Homo sapiens: one gene and its partner. The protein of the gene in region 1 interacts with the protein of each later gene in a biochemical or structural test. Each region holds a gene or a part of one and is shown on either strand. Other genes may lie near its edges.

Region 1 (4,615 bases):
AATTAGTCATCCTGGGGACTCAAAAGCTTCAAAATCCACAGGGATTTTGGAGCCTCTGCTGATGTATAGGACAGACATTTTTGGCTGGAGGTAAAGGGCCACTTTCCATCTTCCCTTCAAATCACTCAACTGCCTCCCTTCTGTTTTTCTAATTGAAACATCCACACGGCCCGGGTCCCTTGCTGGTGATAGCTGCAGTGGCGTCACTCCGAGGTCAGGAATGGCTTGTCCTGTGAGGCCCCCAGCTCAGTGCCAAGCACCATGATGAACTTTATGCCAGGATGGTGGCATAATAGCAAGAATGACCTTATTGTGGGCAGCAGCTCTCAATGTGGGACCCCAACATGTTCTTCAATCACTCACTATATGCAGACAGTGTGCCCTTCAACACATCCTAGGACTTGTAGGAAACGCTTGTGAGTATTGGTCACTCCAGAGACCTTTCCAGGTGGAAAAGTAGCCACTGGAGGTTGTCCCTTCTCTATTCTATGCCCCCTCCACCCGACAGCTCCACCAGCTTACCATCGGCACCAGCCCTGAGAGTGGAGTGAGCAGATTAAGAGGTCAGGTTACTTCCAAGAGAGGGATATTCACAACCCTACTCTGGTTAACTTCTTGTCCTGGCCCCAGGCCTCAGTGCTGGCCAGGGTCCACCGTGGTAAAGGGACCCCATGGGTGTCATCCTTCAGGACTCATATCCACAGAAGGCTTTTTTATTTTTAGACCTTTGACATATTTCCCAAGAGCGGTAGATGCATCTTTTTGTGCATGTTTTAATTTATTAACACAAACATTTAAAGTACGCTTTTTAAAAAAATAATCATGTCTTGGCATTTTTTCAGGTACTATATTCATAGCCTCAAAAAATAGAAGTGGTTGGGTCTCTTCTGCCCCTGGGGCTGGGTGAGCTGCAGCCGCACCGGGGCCATGTCCCTCCCTAGAGGGCGCTCCTCCCTTCCAGCCAGCAATGTTGCCCAACGCGGGAGGCCAGCTGTGCAGAACCCAGCATGCAGGCATCTCACTCCCAATTCAGCCTGGGAAATCGGAACTGAGAGCCCCACGATGAAGCCCTGAGCTGATGCTGACATGACACTAATTCACTGGAAACGAGGGTGATGGGGGCACAGAGCCTCTCATGCTGTGCGCCCTGAAGCCCACCCTCTGGGATGGAAGGGGACTTCTCACGCGAAGCTGGAGAGTTCAGACATTGTCCTGAGGGTAATGGGGAGCTGTTGAAGACAGGTGGGGATGAGCAGCATATTCAGAACTGTATTTTAGAAAGATCGGGCCGGGCGAGGTGGCGTGTGCCTGTAGTCCCAGCTACTCAGGAGGCTGAGACAGCAGAATTACTTGAACCCGGGAGGCGGAGGTTGCAGTGAGCCGAGATCACGCCATTGCACTCCAGCCTGGGTGACAGAGCGAGACTCCGTCTCAAAAAAAAAAAAAAGAAAAGAAAAAAAAAAAAAAAGAAAGGAAAGAAAGATCATTCGTGCCTCATGGGAGAAGGGAGACTGAGGCCTGGGGGTATTGTCCATGTATTTCTAGGTAGAAATTGCAAGTCAAGTCCTTTGGGGAACACAGCAGGGACCCTGTCCTAAGGGTTTCCAGTTGGAACCTTGACAAGACAAAGGCCCCTTCCCAAGCAAGACGTTTTCTCCCAAAGACAGGAAGCAGGCCCATCCCAGCCTCTCTCGGTGGTGCAGTGGTTCCTCCCCGTCAGGCCTGACAGGTGAGGGTAAGTAAGTGGGGAAAACTCGCGGGGGAGAAGAAGTCCAAGGCAAAGAGGGGATCATTTCTCACTGGGCGGGCTGGGGGTCTGTGTCCCGTTTTCTGGGGCAATTTGTCCATTTGCCTCCTCCATCATTTCCTTGTACTGACGCTTGAAGAAGCCAACCTAGGGGGGAGGACGAAGAAGAAACTCAGGAAGCCCATTCAGTGGAAGAGAGGAAAAGAGATGACTGAGGGAGAGGGGTCACTATTTCTGAAATCCTTGCTAGGTTCAAAGCACTGCACTAGGAACTTTATATGCATCATGTCATCTAGATTTAGCCAAAATTATTTTCTTTTTGAGATGGAGTCTCACTCTGTTGCCCAGGCTGGAGTGCAGTGGCGTGATCTCGGCTCACTGCAACCTCCACCATGCCCAACTAATTTTTGTATTTTTAGTAGAGACGGGGTTTCACCAGGTAGGCCAGGCTGGTCTCTTAACTCCTGACTTCAAGTGATCCACCTGCCTCGATCTCCCAAACTGCTGGGATTACAGCCATGAGCCACCGTGCCCAGCCTAGATTTAGCCAAAATTCTATGAGCTGGGGTAGAATCACCTTCACATTGAGAAATCAAGGCCCAGAGTGGAGCAGACACTGGCCTATGGTCAAAGACAAAAAGAACCCGTGGTGATGTCGACATTCAAACCCAGGTCTGTGCTTTTATATGATAATCTGCTGTCAAGGGAAACACGTAGAATGATGGAGAAGAGCAGGAAAGAAAGGGAGAAATATTAGAGGAAGCCTGGGAATCACAAAGCAGGGGGCCACTGGGGACAGGTGACATTGCAGGTGGGAAGCAGTTTCTCATATGAAGTGACCCAGTAAGAATGTGCCTCTGCCTTCAAAGTGAGCTCCTTCTCACTCTGCAAAAAGAGCGGGACCAGATGCTGGTGGTGTCAAGAGTGGCATAAAACACTCACTTTGTACAGTACCGCTGTGATGAGTGCCAGCAGCAACAGACCCCCAATGGAGCTGCCTACGATGAGGGGGGTGGGGTTGTGGACCTTGTACTTCTCCAGCACCGTTGTCGTCTGAAGTGGAAGTGACCCTGTCAGAGCACTCCCATCCTCCTACTATCCCAGACTCCTCCCAGGCTCCCCAACCTTTAACTCCCTCCCCTCCTTCCCCAGGCCCTGCTCCAAGAGGTGAGACACAGCAGCACCCGTGCCCTTAGGGACAGCTATCCTGCCCAGAGGCCTTCGCCCTCCTCCCCCAAGGCTTGCAAACCCCCCACCCAGCACCACAGATGTAGCCCTAGGGGCCCTCTTTCCAGCCTGGTCGCTGCCCTCCACATGGTCTCTACCTGAGCTCTCATAAATGCCTCCTGTCCTGGAAGCTGGGAGTACACGGATGTGTCGAACGTAATTTCAGCCACACTCACGACCGACACCTTCTTCTGCAATATCTGCAAAGGGGTTGGGGGAAACCTGTTGAACTGGCTCTGGGGGAGGCTCAGAGCTCTGGGGGTGCCCTGGCTTGCAGATGGGCACAGACATGCCAGGTCCCGCCTGAGTCTGGGGCAGGGGCTCTGTCGTTGCACCCACACACCTGGCGGACCCAGCCAAAGCTGAGGTTGCCCTTCAGGGTGAAATCCAGCTCCTCCTGGACGCTGAAGGAGGGGACGTCACAGCGGAACCGCAGGCAGCCAGCAATGGAGCAGTCCTGGGGGCAGATAAATAGCATGGGGCTGAGAAAGATGAGTGTGAAGGTGGGAGGCAGCATTATGCGGTGTGACTTGAGGGCAGCGGCCATATCCGAATGCAAGAGGGTACTTCAGCAGGATGGATATGGAACATGAACTCCTGGGTTAAATTCCTCTGATGTGGGGCCTACAGTGAGGGCCAGCCCAGAGCCCTCCTCACCAGCACGGGATTCTTCTGAATGTGCGCCAGGAAGTCAGATGCTGGGGGTGCGATTTTCTCTGAGGAGCACCGAAGGGATGGGTTCTGGGGGAAAATGCAGAGAACAAGTGTCTCAGCTGGGACATCAGGGACCCACATGGGGCACAAGGAATCCAGGTAGAAAGGGCATTCGTGGAGGAGCCACATGCAGTCCTTGGGTACCTGGGGGTGGGAGACCTCCACATCCATCCACACAGCCTCCTGGTTCAGCTCCACAGGCACCCAGAAGTTGATGCTGACAGGCAGGTCCCTCTGTCCCAGGTTATTGACCTGCACAGAGGGCACTGAGGGCAGAGCCCACGCCAAAGCCCAAATCCCTCCCCAGTCTCCGGCTCCCAGCCTCCCACCCCAGCCCAGTCTCCTGCGTCTCCACCACCTGCCTGGTATCTGTGCATGGCCACATGGCTTTCCTTCTCCTCAGACTCTGAGAAGTTGAGGTATTTGGTGAATTGTTCGTGGCTGGAGAGAGAAGACGCATAAGTGGATGTGAACTACCATGGGGCATCTGCAGAAGGCATTGGCTAGAGCATGAGAGGACAGGTGGTCGGTGGGGCCTTGGAATGTCCTGGAATGAGGGCTGTGGCTGAGTTAGGTTATAAGAGAGTTTAGAGGCCAGGCGCGGTGGCTCAGGCCTGTAATCCCAGCACTTTGAGATGCTGAGATGGGCGGATCACCTGAGATCAGGAGTTCGAGATCACCCTGGCCAACATGGTGAAACCCTGTCTCTACTAAAAATACAAAAATTAGCCAGGCATGATGGTGTGCACCTGTAATCCCAGCTACTCAGGAGGCTGAGACAGGAGAATTGTTTGAGCCCAGGGGACAGAGGTTGCAGTGAGCCCAGATCACGCCACTGAATGACAGAGCAAGACTCTCTCTCTCTCAAAAAAAAACAGAGAGAGAGAGTTTAGAGACCAGGCACAGTGCTCACGCCTATAATCCCAG
Region 2 (7,291 bases), on another chromosome or scaffold:
GAAAGATCCTTTTAAAATGGAGTCAAACTAAAGACATTTTCATACAAAAGTAAACTCACTGAACCTGCATTAAAGTATATTCTTTGGCCGGGCGCGGTGGCTCACACCTGTAATCCCAGCACTTTGGGAGGCCGAGGCGGGTGGATCACGAGGTCAGGAGATTGAGACCATCCTGGCTAACACAGGTGAAACCCCATCTCTACTAAAAATACAAAAAAAATTAGCCGGGCATGGTGGCGGGCGCCTGTAGTCCCAGCTACTCGGGAGACTGAGGCAGGAGAATGGCATGAACCTGGGAGGCGGAGCTTGCAGTAAGCTGAGACCACGCCACTGCACTCCAGCCTGGGCGGCAGAGTGAGACTCTGTCTCAAAAAAAAAAAAAAAAAAAAAAAAGGGAAAGAAAGTCTGGAGATACGTGATTAGCTAGGGGACTGGCATAAAAGATGACAAGGGCCTGAATTAACACAGTGACTTTAGGGGTGGACAGTAGAGTACAAACCACACATGGAGACTGAATGAATTTTGGGGAAGTTGAATAAAACACTGCCACATCAATGGGTTAACTGTATCACGAAGAAAAACAGTTGCCATTTACGTAATTCACATTACTATTGGAGGCAGAGAAGTGCTCTTTTTTAAAAAGTAATGAAATGAGGAATGTCTCTCTGAAGCAGGACAGGCATTTATTTAGAGCTGGCCTGAACAAAACCTGGAAAATCTAAACTGGCTGCCTGGTGAGCAAAGAATTAGAGAAAAAGTTAATGGTATGGTTTCAATATTTAATGGCATACAGCAGTAGCAGTCTAAGCATTTAAAAAAGTTAAATTTGCTTAGCAAGAGAGGCCTCCTCACACACTGCCATATACACCAAAGAGTAAAACATAAGAGCAAACACAAATAGCAACTGCCACAGATAACCTATTTTTAGAGAATTCAGATGTTTTTGTGGACAAAAAACTTGAACTATAAAAATATACCTCTCAAAAGGTACCTCGCTCGAAATTTGAGATATGTATTTCAGAGGATTATTATCTAAATATACACACCAAATAGTTCTACATTCAAAACTCCTAATATCTTTGCCACAATTATGTTTAGTTTGAATATTTTACTCTGTGAAGTCCAAAACTAAATGTACCTTCAATAAGTAAATTTTCCTTTTTTGAAGTTTTTATTCTACTAAAACACGTCATACAAATCCCTCAGACTGTTTAAAGGAAATTACATAATTGACCACAAAGAAAGGAAAGTGAAACAAGTGGCGGAGCCACAGACAAGGCATGGCCAGATCTTCAAAAGAGAAGCACTCCCACAGCAGCGACCGTCAGTACCAGTACACTGCTCCCCCTTAAGTGAGTTACAGGCAACAGTTTTTGACTACTGGTTAGAAAGGAAAGAAAAATGCAGCTTATGAGAAACAAAGCAGAAAGAAAGAAAGACAAATTTATACTAATTACAGATGCAAAAGAGTACAATCCTGAAAAACGATAACATTATCTATATTAGTACACATTTATTTACTGACATGACAATACAGTTAACAGTAAATGATGATAATCTTACTTTTGCAAAGCCATCTCCTTCTGCTGATAGAGCTCATTCAGAATCTCCACTTTCTGCCTCAAGGTTTTGCATTCATCTTCCAGTCCAGCTTTGGCAGCTTGTAGTGAGTTGCGGTCATCTTCCAATTTCTTTACCTGGTCTGTAAAGGATAAAACATTTGAGTTCCATATGTGTGCACAAGAACTTGAGAACTTGGTTGGGGGCTGGTGCTGAGAGAAATGAGAAGTATGAAAGCAGGAAGCCGCTCTTTATCTTTCTAATGCAATTTTGTATCTTTCCAATATATAGCAATTTCTTCTCAAGAAGCAACCTACCTTCCAGGTTACATTTAGTGGACACGGAGGCTCTTAGCTTAAGCTGTAAAAGCTTTAGATCCTCTTCAACTACCGATATTGCAGTCTGTGTCTAAAAATTGCAGAAGAGACAAGTATTCATAAAAGTGAGGCATAGTAAAAGTATTCACAGGCAATTATGGGACTCTAAAAACGATTATACCCGAGAGACATCCATCATCTGCTTAATTTGATTTTTCATCTTCTCATTCCGGTCACCTAAAAAACAAAAGGCTTTCTTTCATTGCTTTTTCTTCCCTTGCTTTTTAAATCTATATTTTCTTGATTTACCCAAAACTAAACAATTGTCATGTTCAAACATTTAAAGAACAAACAAAAACAGAAAAGGATTAGACTGACTTTTAAGAGAACTGCAAACTTAAGACTGAAAAAGTGAATTCCCATTTGTACAATAAACATGTTATACATGCCATTATTGAGCAAGAAGAAACATGTGAGATAAAGCTCTTTCTTCCATCTGGGCTTAGTGTCTTATTCAGAAAGATTCCCTCCTATTCTCCTCCAGAATCTACTACCAGGTGTGGTTTAAAACACCCACTACACAAGCAATATCCAACTTGAGAGAGGGCATCTAGAAACATTTTCCTCATCAGTAAACACTGCAACACTATAGCCTCCACTCTCATGGCCTTAGTTTATGGATCCAACCACCTCAGTACTCTCAAAACCAGTTGTGGTTTTCTTTCATGGCCTTAGTCAGTTTATGCCTCCAACCACCTCAGTACTCTTAAAACCAGTTGTGGGCCTTAAAACCACACAGCTACTGAGATGACAAGTTTTAAAATGTTATCTCCATGAAATTGAAAAACAAGTTTCTACTACTGTATGTGTCCAATACTTAGAGGTGTAAGACATGACCAGTGCAGCTCCCGTGCACCCTTCTAGTCTCAATGTGAAAACAAAGTCAGTGTTCACTGCATGCTTACTGCTACACCTCACCCTAGCAATCCACCTCTGCCCAATGCAAACAGACACACATTCAAATCCAATGTATTTACACCTCGAAAGCTTAAGAGGAAATGCAGCCAGCTGAAAAGTAGCACTGGTGCACTTAAAGACAGGAAGGCAAAAGGGGTCCATCCTCCTTGAGGCTGATCTTACCTCCCACTTCTCCATTTGCTAATTCATCTGAATCATTTCCACCTTTATTTTGACCCTCAGATTCAGATTCACACTCTAACAGATTCAACTGTGTAATGCAGTTAGTCAAAGCCTAGAAAAGAAGTAAAAGGGCATTAAGAGTCTTTCCATTTAATTCAACAGATTTGATAATTCACAAGAATTAAGCTTGTATTCATGAACGCACTTACATTAATATTATCATCCTTGTGAGTAAGAGCTACTTCCAAATCTTTCTGAGACTTCTCAAATGATTTGATTTGCTCACTGAGCTCAGCATGTAATTTACTCCAGTCTTCGATTTCCTGCTGCAACTGCAAAGTTAAAACACATGATTCCCACAGGTTAGGGCTTTTGCACTGGAGACATTAGGACCACATGAATGAGACAGGTAAATAAGGAACCATGCCTCTCCTTGGCCTATCACTATGGGCTAAGACCTTGGTTAAGTGGGAGGAGACAGTGGCCCCAACCCTCAGAGCTGTAGTGAGAACATCAGAGCTATCAAGGAAATTGATCTTGTTTATTGCATCCTTCAGAAAATTGTAGCCAATTCAAATAATTCACTTCCAGAAGGAACAGAAGGGCTCATCCTACTATCTCCCAAGTCCACACTCCTGATCATGTAACCTTCCCTTGGCTAGTGAAGCAGTAACTACTCAAAGGAGGGTTATAAAATATCTAACTCTTGGGTCTAAAAAGCCAATCTACTACCCACTCGAGGCTACTCAAGTTAATAGCAATTGGTGTCTGACAAAACAAGACTACACACTCTGATAGCCAAAATAAATTGTACAGAACAGAAAATCCAGAACAGATAGAGAATGTATACCTACACTCAATTTTGGAAGCATAGTTTAAACTTTGCATATCTAAGAACAGAATCCTGCACATATATTACCCTAAAAATAGATCTGAGTAAAGGCATTCATGAGGTATGATACTGAGTTCTCTATTTTACATGACCTGGGACACGCACTTTCCTTTACCTGCTCTTTTTTCTTCTTAAGCCTAGCATTTTCTTCTTGAACCCGATGGCATTCAGACTTCACCTTCTCTTCACTAAGCTTAGCTTCATTAAGTGCAATCTGAACCTAATGCAAAACACTCCTATTAGTGAATTAATTCCAAAGAAAACCAGAAAAAGTTACTTTTCCAACCCAACATCATGTAGTTTTCATTTTTTGCACATTTTAGCATATATCAAATTTTTGCTCTGCAATCAAACTATGATATAGTATTAATATCCTGCAGGAATTACAGTCAGCTTTACCTCTGAAAATTCTGAGGCATTCATTGAAATAACATCCTTTAACTTCTCTATAGATTTCTTGTTTTCTGATATCTGCCATGTAAAAACAGAACACAAAATGCATATTAGGATTTTAGTAGAAACACTGGGATACATACTAAGAAGAAGAAACATCAACAAAGTATGTCCCAGAGCCATCCCCTATGTTTCAGGTAAAAGCAGGTGTTTCAGTTTTGCCCTCGGGAAAAATCAAGAACTTAAAGAGGTAAGGGAAAATAATCAAAGGCATAAATATTTCACAGCATACACAACCTTCCTGGTTAGAATAAAATGTGGTAGATGACCAGACTAAAAGGTGAAAGAAAAGAAACTGAAAAAACTTTTAAGTAAACCAGTTCAAATCAATGTGACTTTTTTTTTTCTTGTGGCAAGAGAAAAAAATAATCCCCAAGGTACTTTAATTTAGTACAATTTGACAATTGTTTTGTCAAACACCAATTGCTCTTGCCTAAATTAAAAATGGTAGGATTGGAGTGAGAATAGACAGATCACCCATATAGAATTCTAGATAATTTATGAAGATTCTGGCTCCTCAAGAGGATGGAGCATAACCCTTCACTTTTTAACTGTGGGCTGCGATAGTAACTTCCTTCCAAAGAGTACAATAATGCAAAAAGTTTAAAAAAAAAAAAAGTAATTTTACAGTGAAGAAACCTGGCAATACTACCTCAACGAGGTCATCAAGATTAATAGGGTGTGGGATTTATGGAACCCTCTCTACTATCTTTGCAACTTTTAGGTCATTCTAAAACTATTCTATTAATAAAATAAAATGTTTATAGCAAAAAAAAAAAAAAACTTTGCAAAACAAAACAAAACACAAGGACTGTTCAACTGGGTTTCTTAGTTGTTCCACATGTTTCGGAGGGCAGAGCCAAGCAATATGACAATTACCTAGGGTTGAGAACCAAAATACTTCCTAGGCCTGTAAGAATAATTTCTTGTGTAAGTACTTAAAATTCCACAAAAATGGACAGAAGTAGGTTCAACTTCCCTGACTCGCACTCTTACTTCACATAACAGCATGGAAAATAAAGAGTTCAACTCAATCTACAAAAGAGTTCAAAACCCAAATTATTAGTAATACTTAGCAGCAAAACTCTTACCAAGTCCTGATTCTTGACATTCTGTTCTCTCTCAGATTCTAGCATAACACGAAGATTTTTAGCTGTGTCATCCAGAATTTCCTGATTTTTTTCAAGTGTCTTGATTTTATCCTACAAAAAAGATATTAAGGTTAGTTATACTCATTACTTTTACTTTTGTTTTAAAATGTAATCCCCAAAAGAAGTTTTTACCTTATATTTAATTGCTTCATCAGAGAGAATCATATTTTGTTTCCTGGTTTCCTGAACATGTTTCTTTGATTCCTTGATCTATATAAAATAAAGCATTCAGAATCCAGAAATATAAAGTATAGTGCTACCAGAACTTATTTTCAAGTGACTGACCTCTTACAGAAGAAAACAGTACTTTACACATATGACTGCTTAAGATCTGGATGGTTTATAGGAATTAATGTAATAATAAATACTATTTAAAAATACCATAGTAACTGAACTATAAGATAGGTGACAAATAATTCAAGCTGGGACCATGAAAAAAAAAAAAAACAAAGAATAATCATACCTTCTGTTCATAATTTGACAATTTTTGTACAAGTTCTGTATTTTCTTTCATGATAGTCTTCAACTTCTCAGAAATTTGCTGTTCCGTGACTGAAAAAAGAAAAAAATAATAAGGTTATTATGATCACTAAATGAAATTGAATTACCCAATGTATCAGCAGCAAAGACATGTTATCTTGCACTATGACAAAAAATAACTTCTCAGCATAACTATTATGGTTTTAAAAAGTGATATGGTTTGGTTCTGTGTCTCCATCAAATCTCATAACAAATTATAGTACCCAGTGTTCAGGTGGGGCCTGGTGGAAGGTGATTGGATCATAAGGGTAGATTTCTCATGAGTGGTTTATCACCATCCCTGTGGTGCTATTCTGTGATGGTGACTGAGTTCTTGTGGAATCTGGTTTTAAAAGTGTGCAGCACCTCCCCGCTCACTCTCTCTTGCTCCTGCTCCCACCATGTAAGATGGCCTGCTCTCGCTTTGCCTTCTGCTGTGAGTAAAAGCTCCCTGAGGCCTCCTCAGAAGCAGATGCCGCTATACTTCCTATAGCCTGCAGAAACATGAGCTAATTAAACTTCTTATAAATTACCCAGTATCAGGTATTTCTTTTTTTGAGACAGGGTCTTGCTCTGTTGTCCAGGCTGGAGTTTAGTGGTGCAATCTCAGCTCACTGCAAAGTCCGCCTCCCAAGCTCAAGCAATCCTCCTGCCTCAGCCTCCTGAGTAGCTGGGACTACAGGTGTGTGCCACCACACCCAGCTAACTTTTATATTTTTTTTATAGAGATGGGGTTTCTCCATGTTGCCCAGGCTGGTCTCGAACTCCTGAGCTCAAGCAATCCTCCGCTTTGGCCTCCCAAAGTGTTGGGATTACAGGCATGAGCCACCACACCAGGCCTTGGGTATTTCTTTATAGCAGTGTGAGAACAGATTAATACAAAAAGCAATCTGCTAACAAGAATAAGGATGTAAAAATACGGTTAGAATTTAAGAAAAATATAATAAGAACCTTTATTTCAATGAGAGTTTAATTTATTTCCAAGATGGGAAATACAGTAAAATGTTATAGCTCAATATTCCTCCCTGCATGAAGCATCTTTCTTCTCAGAAAATGGCATCACTTCAAATATGTCATTTGCAAAGAGAAACAGAAAATGCAGGCGTGCTGATTTATATTTCTAGTTCTCAAATTATCTACTTAAATAAATATTTAATGTACTGACTAAATCATTAGCACAGGGACACTGGTCACATGTAATAAATTGGTACTACATCAACATTTAAGGTCAATCTGCCCCAAATTAATGATCTTCTCCC

Evidence for each region.
Region 2: the proteins of ITGAX (region 1) and MIA3 form a complex in vitro, tested with the Homo sapiens proteins (one study listed by BioGRID).

What each region holds. Positions count from the first base shown.
Region 1 is NC_000016.10:31,379,082-31,383,696, reverse strand, and holds the end of ITGAX (integrin alpha-X isoform 2 precursor), read right to left. Parts: intron 4,130-4,615; coding exon 4,051-4,129; intron 3,941-4,050; coding exon 3,833-3,940; intron 3,716-3,832; coding exon 3,632-3,715; intron 3,432-3,631; coding exon 3,318-3,431; intron 3,175-3,317; coding exon 3,073-3,174; intron 2,801-3,072; coding exon 2,690-2,800; intron 1,895-2,689; coding exon 1,790-1,894; 3' UTR 1,230-1,789; coding exon of another isoform or gene 1,201-1,229; 3' UTR 698-1,200; downstream 1-697. UniProt on the Homo sapiens protein: Integrin alpha-X/beta-2 is a receptor for fibrinogen. It recognizes the sequence G-P-R in fibrinogen. It mediates cell-cell interaction during inflammatory responses. It is especially important in monocyte adhesion and chemotaxis.
Region 2 is NC_000001.11:222,649,066-222,656,356, reverse strand, and holds part of MIA3 (transport and Golgi organization protein 1 homolog isoform 1 precursor), read right to left. Parts: intron 6,066-7,291; coding exon 5,977-6,065; intron 5,724-5,976; coding exon 5,646-5,723; intron 5,565-5,645; coding exon 5,454-5,564; intron 4,381-5,453; coding exon 4,309-4,380; intron 4,130-4,308; coding exon 4,025-4,129; intron 3,350-4,024; coding exon 3,227-3,349; intron 3,130-3,226; coding exon 3,018-3,129; intron 2,115-3,017; coding exon 2,059-2,114; intron 1,969-2,058; coding exon 1,878-1,968; intron 1,703-1,877; coding exon 1,564-1,702; intron 1-1,563.